Linked DNA regions of Homo sapiens: region 2 is linked to region 1. Evidence: fine-mapped expression QTL. Tissue or cell type: vagina. Region 1 holds a variant in brackets; the other region holds the start of a gene. All regions are shown on one strand. Distances are between the middles of the regions.

What was found. PIP is the estimated chance that this variant, and not a neighbour inherited with it, causes the effect.
Region 2: it holds the start of TELO2, and the variant in region 1 is fine-mapped to the expression of TELO2 in vagina (GTEx, PIP 0.94).

The regions. Positions count from the first base shown.
Region 1 is chr16:1,510,899-1,519,862 of GRCh38, forward strand. It overlaps IFT140 (intraflagellar transport 140), which reads right to left. Exons shown (of 31, transcript NM_014714.4): 30 at 7,318-7,459; 31 at 1-252. The coding sequence ends at 46. Among named protein-coding and RNA genes, the nearest start is that of TMEM204, 18 kb to the right of the region's middle. The variant C/T (reference allele first, on the strand shown) is at 3,021.
Region 2 is chr16:1,488,554-1,496,124 of GRCh38, forward strand. It overlaps TELO2 (telomere maintenance 2), which reads left to right and starts at 4,807. Exons shown (of 21, transcript NM_016111.4): 1 at 4,807-5,052; 2 at 5,693-6,063; 3 at 6,793-7,070. The coding sequence starts at 5,729. It overlaps PTX4 (pentraxin 4), which reads right to left and starts at 391. Exons shown (of 3, transcript NM_001328608.2): 1 at 216-391. The coding sequence starts at 356. RefSeq lists enhancers at 4,465-4,514, 4,612-5,512, 6,414-7,314, 7,315-7,571 and silencers at 4,725-4,814, 4,985-5,034, 5,045-5,244.

The sequences.
Region 1 (8,964 bases):
AGATGCCTTTCTGCAGCAGCACGCTGGTCCTGGGGCCCAGGCCCCTCAGGGGTCGTCATCTGCCTCTTCCACCACCTCCTCGTCCAGCTCCCTGGCGTCCTCCATGCTGTTGTGGCGGACCTGCTCGGGGACGGTGCGTGGCAGTGGGAGACCCAGCCCCCGGTGCACGGCGTCCACGGCCTGCGGGCTCACGTAGTAGGACATGTTGGCCAAGGGAAGCCGCCGCCGCATCTCCTCCAGGAATCTGTAGGCCTGGGGCAGAGGAGCAGACATTACTCAGCTTTCCTGAACAACCAGGCACGACCCTCTGCCTGCAGGCCAGGCACGTGCTGCTGCCCCTGGAGGCGGGTGGGGGTGCCTCCGCGCTGGAGGACACGGGGTGCACTGAGGCTTCCCATTGGTGATGGGGGAATGTGGTGATGAGGGGATGCGGTGCCCGCGGACCGCACACATGCCATGTGTGGACACTCAACAGGAAGCTTCGGTCAGCATTTCAGCTGGAAATGCAGAGCCAGGGCCCTGGAAAGTCCCTCAGCAGCTGTGCACAGGCCTGCTCACCGTGCGTGTGCGGGCAGAGCCTCCTGGGGAGGCAGAGGCCCCGCGTTCTGCACTCGAGTCTTGCGGGTGGACATGCATATGTCAGAGTGGAGGGCAGGCAGCGATATCTACTGGTTTGGCTTGGGTATTTTTTTTTTTTGAGATGGAGTCTCAGCTATGAAGATATAATAAGCTTGTTGGATGGCCCCTCCCATCACCTGGCAGTGGACCTGCGTTTAAGGAAGGCCTCAGCTGGGGTGGGCGCTGGTGGAGTGCAAGCCTTCCACACAGTCTCAAACGAGAGGCTGAGGGCAAACATCCACACCTGAAAAGATGCTGCCTTACATGCTGACAAACCACCTGCCATGTGCCAGGCGCTGTGCTGGGGACACAGGGGACACAGGACGTAAGGGCACAGAACAAGCTTGGGTAATGCTGTAGTGGGGAGCCAGGTCAGGCCGAGGTCCTGCAGTGGCAGAATTCAGAGAAGGGCTGGCACAGGGAGGGAGAGAGAGGAAGGAGCTGACCAGGGTCGAAGAGGGACCCTGTGGTCAGAAAGGGCCGGCGTCCTGATGCAACCAGGGCCTGGTGCGTGTGACTGCTCTGTGTGCAGAGCTAGCTTCGGAGAGGGCAATCAAGTGGTTTCCAGAAGGCAGGCAGAAGGTGCGGAGGGCGGGTGAGGGGTGGTGGGGGGCAGGACAGGCGGCATAGGTGGGTGAGGGGTGGTGGGGGGCAGGATGGGGGGCAGGACAGGCGGCATAGGTGGGTGGGGGGCAGGATGGGGGGCAGGACAGGCGGCGTAGGTGGGTGAGGGGCGGTGGAGGGCAGGACGTGGGGACAGAAATGTTGCCGGTCTCCAGCATCAGGAGGGTGTGTGCGGGCTGTGCTCAGATGATGGATGATGGCGGGAAAGCTGAGCGGATATAGGAGCTGTGGCCTGGGTGAGGTGGTGCACGTGACCCCGGGTGGCGCTACAGCAGCAGCCAGGGAGCGTGTGCCTGGGCATTCTCAGTTTAGCTGCGCTTCCCAGTTTCTTTTTTCTTTTGTATCTCGAGTTACTAAATTCCACAGGCTTCAAGCAACCATAGAGAGAATAAAGAAGTTGGCGAAATATTTAAAATGTGGATTTCCTGTTAATTTTGAGGATATAGCAGTCTGGGCATCTCTCTACTCCAATTTTGCTTTTATACGGAAAACTATAGTTCTCCTAGAAATAGAAACCCCGTTGGAGCAGGGCGCGGTGCTGCACACCAGCCACTCACGAGGATCCCTTGAACCCGGGAGGCTGAGGCTGCAGGGAGCTGTGATTGTGCCACCGCACTCCAGCCTGGGCGACAGAGCAAGACCTCGTCTCAAAACCAAACCAAGCAACAACAAAAAAGAAACCTTGTTAGGATTAGACTTGAGTTGTTTTTTCCAGCAGCAAAAGGGGTCAGTGAATGGAAGTGGAACGGCGCAGAGGGGAGTGAGCAACCGGGCCAGGAAGTCTGTGTCTCACGGAGCTGACCTTTCAGCCCTGAGGGAGAGCCACTGCCAAGGAGCTTTCCTGTGAATTCTGGAGGCTGCAGCCCAGCGAGCCCGACACGGTCGCCAGCATGTTTCCCAAGCTCATTTCTCGATACTCAGTTTGTGAGTCCCGGGAACTATCTAATAGGGCAACACAACTGGTGGGTGCAGAGGCCCTGCAGGCATCGGCATAGCTGCAGGGTCTGACGGATGCAGGCGCGTGCAATTCTCTATGTTGGCTACAACAGAATTATGGTTGAAAAAGAGGCCGGGCGCGGTGGCTCACGCCTGTAATCCCAGCACTTTGGGAGGCCGAGGTGGGCGGATCACGAGGTCAGGAGATCAAGACCATCCTGGCTAACACGGTGAAACCCCGTCTCTACTAAAAAATAAATAAATAAATACAAAAATTAGCTGGGCGTGGTGGCGGGAACCTGTAGTCCCAGCTACTTGGGAGGCTGAGGCAGGACAATTGCTTGAGCCCAGGAGGCGGAGGTTGCAGTGAGCCACGATCATGCCACTGCACTCCAGCTGGGCAACAGAGCAAGACTGTCTCAGAAAAGAAAAAAGAATGAGAAGAGAGGCTTCTGACAACAGCAGCACGACTCCTGTGAGAGCAGCCCTCCCCCTAATGACGACGGACACATGGAAAGGCACTGGGGGCAGCCGTGAGCAGGCTGATGCTGGGAGTGGGTGGCACTGGGCAGGCTTCCTGCTTCTCACAACTTTCTTTTTTTTTTTTTCTTTTTTGAGACGGAGTCTTGCTGTGTCGCCCAGGCTGGAGTGCAGTGGTGCGATCTCTGCTCACTGCAAGCTCCGCCTCCCGGGTTCACACCATTCTCCTGCCTCAGCCTCCCAAGTAGCTGGGACTACAGGCGCCCACCACCACACCCGGCTAATTTTTTGTATTTTTAGTAGAGACGGGGTTTCACCGTGTTAGCCAAGATGGTCTCCATCTCCTGACCTCATGATCTGCC[C/T]GCCTTGGCCTCCCAAAGTGCTGGGATTACAGGCGTGAGCCACTGCACCCGGCTGCTTCTCACAACTTTCTGCCTCAGGGTAGGCCCAAGTCAGGGCCAGTGTGGGCATCAGCCACCTCGAAGCCTGCCCTCTTCCAGGCTTAAAGAATCAGAATCAAGATTTTTGTTGGCCAGGTGCGGTACCTCACGCCTGTAATCCCAGCACTTTGGGAGGCCAAGGTGGGTGGATCACGAGGTCAGGAGATCGAGACCATCCTGGCTAACACGGTGAAACCCCGTCTCTACTAAAAATGCAAAAAAAATTAACTGGGCGTGGTGGCGGGCGCCTGTAGTCCCAGCTACTCGGGAGGCTGCAGCAGGAGAATGGCATGAACCAGGGAGGCGGAGCTTGCAGTGAGCCGAGATCACGCCACTGCACTCCAGCCTGGGCGATAGAGCGACACTCCATCTCAAATAAATAAATAAATAAATAAATAAAAGATTTTTGTTGACCACAGCAGCTGGAATGTGAAGGTGGAAACGTTGGGATGCAGCAGGCATAGAGGGGATCCCAAATCCTGAGCATATGCTGCCCTCGTCACTAGTTGCTCCCACACTACACATGAGGCAGGGGAGGTGCAGACTTTAAGCCAACTCACGCTACAAGCAGGGATTTCAGCTGCTATCCACCACAGGGGAAAGAGTTTCGGCTCTGAGCTGAGCAAAGGTGATTGCCTAATAAAATGAACCAAAAAAAAGCAATACTCTTTGGAGGAATGTAACAGAATCCAGAGTCTCTACAATGGATTATCCACAATGTCCATGATACAAAAAAATGACTAGACATAAGAAACAGGAAAATTTGACCCATACTCAAAAGGCAAGTAATGGAGATCAATCCTACATGACCCAGATATTGGAACCGGTAGCTAAGATTTTACAGCAGCAGTTACAACTCTGCTTTAGGATATAAATATAAAATATATTTTAAACAAATTAACAAATAGGGAATTTTAGCCAATAAATAATAAAAAGAACTAAGTGTAAATTCTAGGGCTGCAAAATACAAGCTCTAAAAAGATTGCTGGAGAGGTTAACAGCAGATTGAAGATAGCTAAAGAAAGTCTAGATAAATACAAATTAATCCAAAGGACAGAAAAAAAGAAAATAATGAGCAGTAATCACAAATGTGTGTCTACTAGATATGGAAGACCTAACATTTAATTGGAGTCCCAGAAGGAGAAAAAGAGCAAATTTCCCAAATTTGGCAAAACACAAATATAGATCCCAAAAGCCCAGGATAAATACAATGAAAACACCTAGGAACATCATTATCGCACTGCTGAAACACAAATTCAAGAAGAAAGTCATGACAGCAGCCAGTGCAGTGGGAGATGGAGAGACACATGACATGTAAGGGCCCCACAGACAGCCCATAGCTGACTCTTCCAGAAACAATGGAGGCCCAGACAGGGAAAACATTCAAGTGCTGAAAGGAAAAAAATCTGTCAAATCAGGATTTTTTTTGAATCAGGATCTTGCTTTGTCACCCAGGCTGGAGTGCAGTGGTGCTATCACAGCTCACTGCAGACTCAACCTCCTGGGCTCAAGCAGTCCTCCCACCTCAGCCTCCCAAGCAGCCAAGACTGCAGGTGCATGCCACCATGCCTTGCTATTTTTTTCAGAGATGGGGTCTCACTTGTTACCCAGGCTGGACTTGAACTCCTGGCCTCAAGAAATCCTCCCACCTTGGCCTCCCAAAGTGCTGAGATTACAGGCATGAGCCACTGTGCCTGGCCTCAGAATTCTCTATCTGATGAGAACAACCTTGAAGAATACAGGCAAAATAAATACATTTCAGATTAACGAAAAGTAAGAAAATTCATCATCAGGAGATCTGAACTAGAAGAAATGTTAAAGGGAGCTCAGGCTGAAGAGGAGTGATACCACATGCAAATCGGAATCATAGGGAAGAAGTAAGAACACCAGAAATGACGCTTTGGGAGGCCGAGGCAGGCAGATCACCTGAGGTTGGGAGTTTGAGACCAGCCTGACCAACATGGAGAAACCCCATCTCCCCTAAAAATACAAAATTAGCCAGGCGTGGTGGCGCATGCCTGTAATCCCAGCTACTCCGGAGGCTGAGGCAGGAGAATCACTTGAACCTGGAGGGTAGAGGTTGTGGTGAGCTGAGGTTTGTTGCCCACTCCAGCCTGGGCTACAAAGAGCAAAACTCTGTCTCAAAAAAAAAAAAAAAAAAAAAAAAAAAAAAAAAAAAAAACACCAGAAATGGATGGTAAATATGTAGGTAAATGTAAAAGACTATTTCTTTCCTTTTAATTTCTTCAAAATACATATGACTGTTGAAAGCAACAATTATAACACTATACTGTGTTTATAATACATGTACATGTTACACATACGACAAATACAGGTGGGGACACGGGTGGGAAATGGACCTACCTGCTAACTCTAGTGTGGTAAGTATGTTTATGGTAATCTCCAGGGCAAACACTAGAAATACAATGCAAAGAGGAGTAGAGATAAAAAGCTGATAGCTAAAATGAAATTATAAAAAATAGTCCACTAAGGCCAGGTGCGGTGGCTCACGCCTGTAATCCCAGCACTTTGGGAGGCCGAGGCGGGCGGATCATGAGGTCAGGAGATCGAGACCATCCTGGCTAACACGGTGAAACCCTGTCTCTACTAAAAATACAAAAAAATTATCTGGGCGTGGTGGCGGGCGCCTGTAGTCCCAGCTACTCGGGAGGCTGAGGTAGGAGAATGGCGTGAACCCGGGAGGCAGAGCTTGCAGTGAGCCGAGATTGCACCACCGCACTCCAGCCTGGGCGACAGAGCGACACTCTGTCTCAAAAAAAAAAAAAAAAAAAAATCAACTAAAAAGAAGGCAGGAAAAAAGGTTTAAAGTAACAATAATAAAAACTGGTAGAAAAAGTTGACTGGTAGAAAACTGACATGAAAAAGATGGATGGGATTACCATCAGAGTGAGACACTGCAGAAGGAAAGCTGGTAAACTTGAAGCAACAGAAATGGCAAATCCCTAAAATGAAAAACAGAAAAAGTCCTTGGGGGAGAAAAGAAGAGCATCAGTTGAGCTAGGGGATGGTACTGTATATACAAGTCATTGGAATTTCAGAAGCAGAGGAAAAAAGGAATAGAAGGGAACTTCGGCCAGGCGCGGTGGCTCACGCCTGTAATCCCAGCACTTTGGGAGGTGGAGGCGGGTGGATCACTTGAGGTCACGAGTTCAAGACCAGCCTGGCCAAATGGTGAAACCCCATCTCTACAGGCATGCTGATGCACACCTGTAGTCCCAGCTACTTGGGAGGCTGAGGCAGGAGAATGGCGTGAACCCAGGAGGCGGAGCTTGCAGTGAGCCGAGATCGCGCCACTGCGCTCCAGCCTGGGCAACAGAGTGAGACTCCGTCTCCAAAAAAAAAAAAAAAAAGTACAATAATAAGAAAACCCAATAAAATGATGAGAAGAGACTTGAAGCCTTCACAGAAGGTGTGTAAATGGATAATAAGCACATGAGAAGGAGCTGCACATCACTACTCATCCAGAAAATGTGAATTTAAACCTCAGCAAGGTACTGTTCACCCCCTAGGATGGCTACAGTTCGAAAGAATGATCAAATGTTGGTGGGGATGAGGAAAACGCTAGAACACTGCGGCTGAATAAGTGATTAGCTGGTCACTTTAAAGTGACTACACGCTGTCTCTAAAATTAAAAAATAAGCGACTAAAAAATGGAACACCATTTTCTTTTTTTGTGAAAATCCCTGAAAAAGAAATCGTGGTTATTCAGACTCGGGTACATGCAGACATTTCTTCACAAATAAAGTAAGTCTGTCGCTTTCCTGCGACACTGCTAGTAACAGCCAGTAACAGCGTGAGACTGTTACTTTTTGCTACCGACAGATTTTTTTTTTCTTTTGAGACAGGGTCTCGCTCTGTCACCCAGGCTGGAGTGCAGTGGCGCCATCAGATCTCACTGCAGCCTCAACCTCCTGGGCTCAAGGGATCCTCCCACCTCAGCCTCCCAAGCAGCTGGGACCCCAGGTGTGAGCCACCATGCCTGGCTAATTTTTCCCCTTTTTGTAGAGATGGGGTTTCACCATGTCGCCCAGGCTGCTCTTGAACTCCTGGGCTCAAGTCATTCTCCTGCCTCAGCCTCCCAAAGTGCTGGGATTACAGGAGTGAGCCGCCACACACAGCCTCAGTTTGAGCCGTTAAGCCTTCGTTTCAGGAGCCTTGTGTGGCGGGATGCTGCTAGTGAGCAGCACTCAGGCCTCACCGTCTGGTATTCCTCCTTCCGCACGTAGTGCTCCACCAGGAAGCCATAGACGTCCCCGATGCGGATGGTGCTGTCCAGGTCTGGTTCCTCCAGGAGCAGCTCACACTGCTTGATGGACTCCTTGGGGTCCTCTGTGTACGTCCTGCCGAGAGCAGAGATGAGGCCTGGGCCCCGAAGCCCTGAACACCTACTGCTATCAGAGGTCAGAGGAGACTCTTGGCCTGTAAGAGGAGCTCTCCGGAATGGCAGGAGGAAACTTTCTATGAAGTTAAATTCATTAATTCCTTAATTTGTTCATTCATAAATTAACTCATCCATGTAACATTCTTACTGATCACTTGAATGCTGGGTCCTATGCTTGGACTGAAGACCAAAGACTTCCGACCCCTAGTTCCTGCTCTATGGAACAGTCCAGAGGGGGCTAGAAACCTCTGCACAAAGCGTGACCCAGAGGGGATGTGGTGCATGTGGACAGGGTACACGGAGAGGCGCACGGCACCCCTTGCCCAAGGCCGCTGGGAAGAACCCTCCAAGCAGAGAGGCTGCCCGCACACAGGCTGCGTGTGTGACCTGGCGTGAGGGTCTGTGGCAGAGCAGGGTGTGTGGCCTGTGAGCTGGGGTGACACCAGGGAGGTGAGCCTGCTGGAACACAACATGGTCCAGGGCAGGTGACTGGAGCCGTGTGGAGCTCAGGCTCCCATGTCAGGAGGGTCCAGGGCCCATCTGGCCACCCACTGACTCGGCCATTCCAGACAGGCGCCTGGCCTGCCCTCTGACCCCTGGCCCATAGAAGGTTGCCCACCCTGGCCCTCACACGTCGTCTCCCCTCCACCCACGTCCTGTGCTATCCCTGATGACCAGCTGCTATCGATTCTCCTCCGCTCCTGCCCTGTGGCCTCAGCTCAGCAGACATCTGTGAGACGCTGATACCCCAGAATCGACACGTGCAGGTGGACCGTGCCCTTCCAAGGGGCACCGCTTTGTACGACCTTGTTCAAAGGACTTCTGGAACTCTTGTTTTGGAAAAGGTTCTCCGATAAGGAAAACAGCCCTGCCAGCTGAGACAGAAGCTGGGCCCTGAAGCGCACAGGCGAGTGCCCACCGTGGTGGCCACACAGCAGCTCTCTGAAAAGCTGAGTCACCTGCCCATAATAAAGATGGGGAGGTGTTCAAATAAACTTAGCATCTTGGCCTCTCCTGAAAACCGAGACCATCGGCTGGCTGCCTGGGTCTCCTCTCCACAAGCTTGGAGCTGGTGGCAGTTGACCTGTGGAGAGGCATGAGCCCTCTGGTCACCATGGTCCCCCAACCCCAGGTCACACAGCGGCACTCACTCAGGACTCCCCTGCCCGGCCCCTGCACACCCTCAGCAGGTCTGTGGCTCCCCAGACACACCCTCTCCTGCTCCACATCTGCCTCCTCCTCCCACTCCCCCACCAGGTTTCTCTCTCAGCGTCTCTGGTGTTTCCAGAACACCTTCCCAAGGCTGTGCCCGGGCTCTGAGGGCTCCCAGGAGGAGGTGGGGTGTGTCTTCAGCAGTAGTGCTGTCCCAAGTGAGCTCCCATCTGCTGTCCTGCCCTTTTGCTGGCTGGGGTTTCTCGTGGTCAGCCCCGGCCCTGTAGTCACATCTGCCCTGGCCTGTCCCCG
Region 2 (7,571 bases), 23 kb before region 1:
GTTATGAGGCTTGTGTCCTGTGTGAGTGGAGCCCAGCTCAGCTCTTCCCTGGTGTCCAACTGCAGGTGAAATAATCTTCATGGATGGAAAGAGCGTCACACGCGGTGTTCGTGTCCGCCAAGCCCTGATGTTTACCAATCTGCTTCTGTAACATCCGTCTTCCATCTGCTGCCAATTTAAAAACCCGACTGCGCCATGTCAGGGGTATAACTTGCCTGTTCCTCCAGCCTACGGAGCCTCTCGAAAAACGGTTTCCTGGGCCCCACTGGGGCGGCTTCCTGCGATGAAGCCCCATGTAGATATATAGGCACAAAAACAAGGAAGAAAGACAAGGTCTTCCTCCACGAGCAACCCATCCGGAGAGACGGCAAGGCCCCAGCAGTCTCCCTCCAGCCGCAGGAGAGGGTGAAGGTGGCTCCGTGGGTCTGTCTTGTGTCTCGTCCCCCCAGCTCTCCTGTTGAGTGGTTTTCCTTCTTTGGCCCTGGCTGGATGTCAGGTTCTTCCTGCCGCCTCCATGAAAGGCATCTGCCTTCAAGCCAGTGGGCTCTGAGACTTGCAGGTTCCTAAGGAGACAAGCTTAAAACAGATGCAAACAGTTTCTTTGAAGAATCATTCAGCTGGGTGCAAGCCCGCGGGCAGGAGGCGATGGCTTTAACAGGAGCACATGGACTTGTGCTCCCGAGAAGTCGAAGCAAGACAGGGAACCCGACGGGGGCTGGGGAGTCAACAGAGCCAGGTCTGCACAGGCACCCATCACCCAGGCCGTGCACGGCTGCATCCTGGGAGGCCCCGTCTCTCTCAGTAAAGCAATGGAAATGTGACTGGGAGCCACCTTAATTAATTAATTATTATTATTATTTGAGATGGAGTCTCGTTCTGTTGCCTAGGCTAGAGTGCAATGGCGCAATCTCAGCTCACTGCAACCTCTGCCTCCCCGGCTCAAGCGATTCTCCTTCCTCAGCCTCCTGCCTCCTGAGGAGCTGGGATTACAGGCGTGCTTTACCATGCCCGGCTAATTTTAGTATTTTTAGTAGAGATGGGGTTTCACTATGTTGGTCAGGCTGGTCTCAAACTTCTGACCTCATGATTTGCCTGCCTCAGCCTCCCTAAGTGTTCGGATTACAGGCATGAGCCACTGCGCCTGGCCAATTAATTAATTTTTTTGACGGAGTCTTGCTCTGTCACCCAGGCTGGAGTGCAGTGGTGCGATCTCCGCTCACCACAAGCTCCGCCTCCTGGGTTTAACGGATTCTCCTGTCTCAGCCTCCCAAGTAGCTGGGATTACAGGTATGTGCCCCCACATCCGGCTAATTTTTGTATTTTTAGTAGAGACGGGGTTTCACCATGTGGGCCAGGCTGGTCTCAAACTCCCGACCTCAGGTGATCCACCCGCTGTAGCCTCCCGAAATGCTGGGATTACAGGCATGAGCCACCGCGCCCGGCCAATTTTTGTATTTGTAGTAGAGACGGGGTTGCCCCATGTGGGCCAGGCTGGTATTTTTGGTTACAGGTTGTGTACTGGCTTGAATGAGACCCTCCTAAAAACACACATAAGCCCCAGGCAGGGCCTTATGTGGAAAAGGTCTCTGCGGATGTCATGAAGGATTTTGAGATGAGACCATCCTGGATTATCCAGGTGGCCCTAAAGCCAATGACAGGGGTACAAGAGACAGAGGAGGAGGCACAGAGGACACGGCCTGTGAAGATGGGGCAGAGACTGGGGTGACGCTGCCACGAGGAACCCCCAGAGGCCCCAGAAGCTGGAAGAGGTAAAGTGGGAACCCCCAGCCCAGAGCCTTCGAGGGAGTGTGCACCTTCACTTCAAGACTTCCAGCCCCCAGAACTGTGATAGGACTCATTTCTGTTGTTTCAAGCCGCCCAGCTCATGGGAATAAGATCATCCACAAAGTTGTCCCACTGGGGGCATCCATCATTCCCAAGGTGGCATGAGCCAAGAGGGTGCCAGGCCAGGAAACCATCGGTGGCCCCCAGGCTCCCCTTGTCAAGCGTCAGAACACCATGGACATGGAGAAGATGCAGAAAGCATCGGAGAGAACATCCTGGGCACATGGACGGGGTTGGGGCCTTAGGCCCCGGGGGACTGGCAGCCACCAGGACAGCGACGCTGGTGCCACACACAGAGCGGCGGATCTCGCAGCTTCCAACTGACAGTGAGTTCCATTTATTTATGTATTTATTTTATTTCGGTAGAGAAGGGTCTTGCTATGTTGCCAGGCTGTTCTCAAACACTCCTGGGCTCAAGCAATCCTCCCAGCTCAGCCTAGCCAAAGTGCTGGGTTTACTGGCGTGAGCCACTGAGCCTGCCTGATTTCCATTTAAAGTTGTGGGTCGGGGCAGGGTGTGGTGGCTCTCTCCTGTAATCCCAGCACTTTGTGAGGTCAAGGTGGGCAGATCACTTGAGTCCAGGAGATCGAGACCAGGCTGGGCAACATGGCAAAACCCCGTCTCTACTAAAATTACAAAAATCAGCCAGACGTGGTGGTGTGCACCTGCAGTCCCAGCTACTTGGAAGGCTAAGGCGGGAGGATCGCCTGAGCCGGGGAGAAGGAGGTTGCAGTGAGCTGAAATCGCGCCACTACACTCCAGCCTGGGTGACAGAGCAAAGAATAAAGACATTTTCAGACACACAAAGGCTTGAGAAATTTGTCCTCCAAGCACCCACTGTTGGATGCGGGGCTTCAGGAAAAGAAGGGAATAGGGAAGGACGGAGCTGCCGTGGGCACTGGCGAGGGCTGGAACCCAGCAGCGGACGGAGGAGGAGTTTCCGGGATGATGGGATGCTGCCTGCCCCATATCCCATCCATCAGCTCTGCCTGCAGAGACATGCCCTGAGTTCAGCTGCTTCTCTACACCCCCATTCCGCCCCAAGCTCATCCTCACAATGGCCACCTAGTCCCCTCGTCCGTGTCGCCCCCCTACCGTCTGCTCTCCTAACTGCACCAGCATGGACCCGTGCCTTCAATGGCTCCAGGAGATGCCTGCCACACAAGCAAAATCTTAGTCCCTGCGAGGGCCTTCTGTGGCCTGGCCCACTGCCTCACTCCCTCCAGGCCTCACCCCTGCATATGCCTCCCTCGGCTCCACCTCCCGGGCAACAGTTGCGGCCTCAGGCCTTTGCACCTGCCGTTTTCCTGCCAGTGAGACTCTTCCCTGGCTGTCAACACATTCAGGGCTCTGCTCTAAGGTGTTCTGTTCAGAGCTCTCACCTTACGTAAGACAGCACCCACTGCTCTCTGGCTCTTTTCTTTTTTTTTTTTTTTGGAGGAGTCTCGCTCTGTCACCCAGGCTGGAGTTCAATGGCACAATCTCCACTCATTGCAACCTCTGCCTCCTGGGTTCAAGCAATTCTCCTGCCTCAGCCTCCCAAGTAGCTGGGATCACAGACACATGCCACCACGCCCAACTAATTTTTGTATTACTATTATTATTATTATTATTCTTTTTTTAGGAGAGACGGGGTTTCACCATGTTGGCCAGGCTGGTCTCGAACTCCTGAGCTTGTGACCCACCCGTCTCGGCCTCCCTAAGTGCTGGGATTAGAGGTGTGAACCACTGTGCCCGGCCACTGGCTCTTATTTTCTTACCCTACCGGTTTTTTATTTTGATTCCTTTTTTTTTTTTGAAACAGGGTCTTGCTCTGTTGTCCAGGCTGGAGTGCAGTGGCAGTGAACATGGCTCACTGCAGCCTCAACCTCCCGGGCTCAAGCCATCCTCCCACCTCAGCCTCCTGAGTAGCTGGGATCACAGGCTCATGACACCGTGCCTGGCTAATTTTTAAATTTTTTGTAGAGACAGGGTCTCACTATTTTTCCCATTCTTGAACTTCTGGGTGCAAACGATTCTCCCACCTCAGCTTCCCAGTGCTGGAATTACCGGCGTGAGCCACCGGGCCCGGCCTCTGCCAGTTTTTCTGCTCGAGGCCTGTCACCTGGCATATTTCGTATGTACTTTATCTGTTCCCCCGATAGGTGAGCAGGAACTTTGCATCATTTGTTGCTCAGAAGGCTTGGTGCACCAAGCAGGCATTTAATCAATGTTTGTTGAATGGATAACTGTTCCCCAGCTTTTCCCACATCCATCACTGCTGAAATGGCGCCTCTTTAGGTGTCTTCCTGGATTGCCCCCTCCACAAAGATGAAGCCCCCCACACTCCGCTGCGGTGTACAGAAGGCACTGCATGTTGTAAATGTTCAGTGTCCGGCTGTCCAGCCTGGCGGCCACAGCCAAAGGTAGTACCGAGCCCTTGAGATGGGGCTAGTGCTGCAAGGGAACTGGACTTATTTAACTTCAGTTAATTTACAGAGCCACATGCGTCTAGCGCTTACCCTACTGGTCGCAGTTTTTATTCCACGACCCGGCCTCATTTACGGAGCTGCAATTGTTCAGATCTGACATGATCTCAACTGCTCTTTTACTTCCTTGTGTACCGTGCGTTTCCCTTACTGGCCTCTGACCCTTGAAAGCAGAGCCTTACATCCGGGGAAGACGAGCCAGGCCTGTCTTGGTAAACATCTGCCTTAGAGCGAACGCTCGGCGTTCTGGAGAGAATGTGGGACCCGAGGCGGAGGGAAGAGACGGCTGACATCACTCCAGGGTAGGGACGACCGAGATGGGAGAAACTAAGGCGAGAACCCACCACCCGGGCGCAGCGAACCCAGCTCGCAGCCACGTGGGGAAGCGCGGCCCTGCCCTCAGGCCCCGCCCCACTCACGCGTCAGGCCCCGCCCACCCCACCGCCCCCCGCTCCCGCGTCCAGGCTCCGCCCCGTCCCCGCGCAGCGCAGGCGCAGATGCGCCCTCCCGCCTGGCGTCCTCCGCAGATTCGCGCTGAGAGGCCCGCGGAGACCCGCCCCAGAGGCTCAAGAAAACCCGCGGGAGCCTCGCCCGGACCCAGGAACTCGTGCTCGGGGCCAACCGGCTGGGCCGCGATCGCGTTTCGTCCGGGGCCGCGGCGGCCGTGGGGAATCGGCTGCAGCGAATCGGTGGCGCGCGGCGCCTGAGCGCGCTGCAGTCACCCGGGAGCCGGGTCCAGGTCGGGTTGGGGGTCGGGGATCGGGGATCGGGGGTCCGGTTGGGTCGGGTTGGGCTCCAGGTCTGGTTGGGTCGGGTCCAGGTCGGGTAGGAGTCCGGTCGGGGTCCGGGTACAGGTCGGGGTCCGGGCCTGGATCGGGGGCGGGTCCGCGTGCGGCTCCTCTAGCCCCGAACCCGTGTTCCCCGTAAGCTGTTGGTTTCTAAGGGGCGGAGGAATGGCGACTGGAGCCACCTCTCACCGCTCAGGGAGCCGGGAGGGCCGGCAGCTCCCGCGGGCCGAGTTTCCCGCCTTGGGTGCGAGGACGCGTGGGGCCGCGCTGTGCCCGGGGAACACTCACCAGCATCTCTAGCCTCCACCTCCCTCTCGCGCCAGTGGCACTCCCGGTTGAGACAACTGAGAATGTTCCCTGGGCACAGTGGCCCGGGTTGAGAAGCCCTGCAGTGGCTGGTAGCGTTGGGGTCCGAGCGGAGGAGCGAACTCTGGGTGGAAACCGGCAGGCACTGGAGGGGAAGGAGGCGGGACAGGGTTGGGTGGGACCAGGGTTGAGGGGTGTGGGGTCTCGGGGCGCTCACCGAGGGGCTTCCTGAGCTTGTGTGGATTATTTCCGTGCCCCAAGCTGAGCCCTGTGTCCATGTCACAGGTCGTCTTCCCGTGACGCCCAGATCTGTCCTGCAGGATGGAGCCAGCACCCTCAGAGGTTCGACTCGCCGTCCGGGAAGCCATTCATGCCCTCTCGTCTTCGGAGGATGGCGGCCACATCTTCTGCACCCTGGAGTCCCTGAAGCGGTATCTCGGTGAGATGGAGCCTCCAGCGCTCCCGAGGGAGAAGGAGGAGTTTGCCTCGGCCCACTTCTCGCCTGTCCTCAGATGTCTTGCCAGCAGGCTGAGCCCAGCCTGGCTGGAGCTGCTGCCCCATGGCCGCCTGGAGGAGCTGTGGGCCAGCTTCTTCCTGGAGGGCCCGGCGGACCAAGCCTTCCTGGTGTTGATGGAGACCATCGAGGGTGCTGCGGGGTGAGTGGGCTGGGCCCATCCTGGGGTTGCCGGTAGCCTCAGAAGTGATGAGAGTGGCTTGAAGGACTGGACCAAGAGCCTCTCTAGTCCCTGTGAGGGGCTAGAGAGAGAGCCTGCTCCTGGCTGAACCCCTGAACAGAAGAAGCGGTCTGTGTCTGTCTCCTTTGCGACGGGAGGCACCTGCTGTGTCTCACAAAGTCCCCCACTTGCTCCCCGTCCGGCTGTGTCAGAGAGGGATGGGGTGGGAGTGTTCACATCCCAGGCGGCAGAGGCAGCCCGTCAGCTGGGGACGTTCCAGGTTTTCCAGGGAAGCACAGCTGTCATCACTGACACGTGTCCCATGTGGACTCCCAGCCCCAGCCGGCTCCCAGGCTCAGCCTCAGATCACACTGCAGTCCTTGCCGGGACACTGCATCTTGAGAAGCTGGGTTTTCAGAGGTTGCTGTGATCAAAGCAAGCACTGAGTTATCCGCGTCAGCAGCAGGGGAGGGGTGTCCAGTGAGACTCCAGGTTGGGGAAGCCGCTCAGGGCCCCGAGAGCTCTCACACAGTAATCGCAGTTATTTAGGAATGGATTAACAGATTTTCCCATCCGGCTTGTGGTTTTGGACTTCACGCTGGTTATGTTGTTGGGGCTGCCCGTGTAATCCGGGCTGCTGGTTCCTTGTGGCAGGAAGGGGGCCCCGAGGATGGGGGTTGGCGGCTCTGCCCAACACGCCCGTATCTTCAGCCCCAGCTTCCGGCTGATGAAGATGGCGCGGCTGCTGGCCAGATTCCTGCGCGAGGGCCGGCTGGCAGTGCTGATGGAGGCGCAGTGTCGGCAGCAGACGCAGCCCGGCTTCATCCTGCTCCGGGAGACGCTGCTGGGCAAGGTGGTGGCCCTGCCCGATCACCTGGGCAACCGCCTGCAGCAGGAGAACTTGGCCGAGTTCTTCCCCCAGAACTACTTCCGCCTGCTCGGCGAGGAGGTCGTCCGGGTGCTGCAGGCGGTTGTGGACTCTCTCCAAGGTGAGGCCCTGCCTCGGGGACCCCCTTTGCCACCCGTCTTCTTGGGTCCTCGTCCCCTGCCACCCTCTGGTGCCTCACGGCCTCTGGAGACTTTGGAGTCTCTGGTTGATGCCGTCAGGCAGGTGGGGATGTCCCTGTCCCGCACAGTAGTGACCGGCAGGGCTCATCCGCTGTGGGCTGAAGTCCGCTGCCCTCCACGCGGGCTTCTCTTGTCCCTGCAGTCCCTTGGGTTTCCAGGGCCCAACTGTGCTGTGGTGGCCAGGTGGGGGATCTCGAGGTTCTCAGGTCTGGAGGCAGACGCTGGCGGTGCCCTGGAGAGGGGGTGCTGTGGGAACGGCCTTGCCCGCTGCTGGGCTGCAGGGCCCCGTGAGCGCCCATGCTCGCTCTGTTTTCCCTGGGGCGCCAGATGGCGGCTGCCGCGAGTGTGCGTTTCACTAGCGAGAAGGAGGCTGGGCCGGGGGCCTGCACAGCACCCGGAGCGTCTGCCTCTCCCTGCAGGGT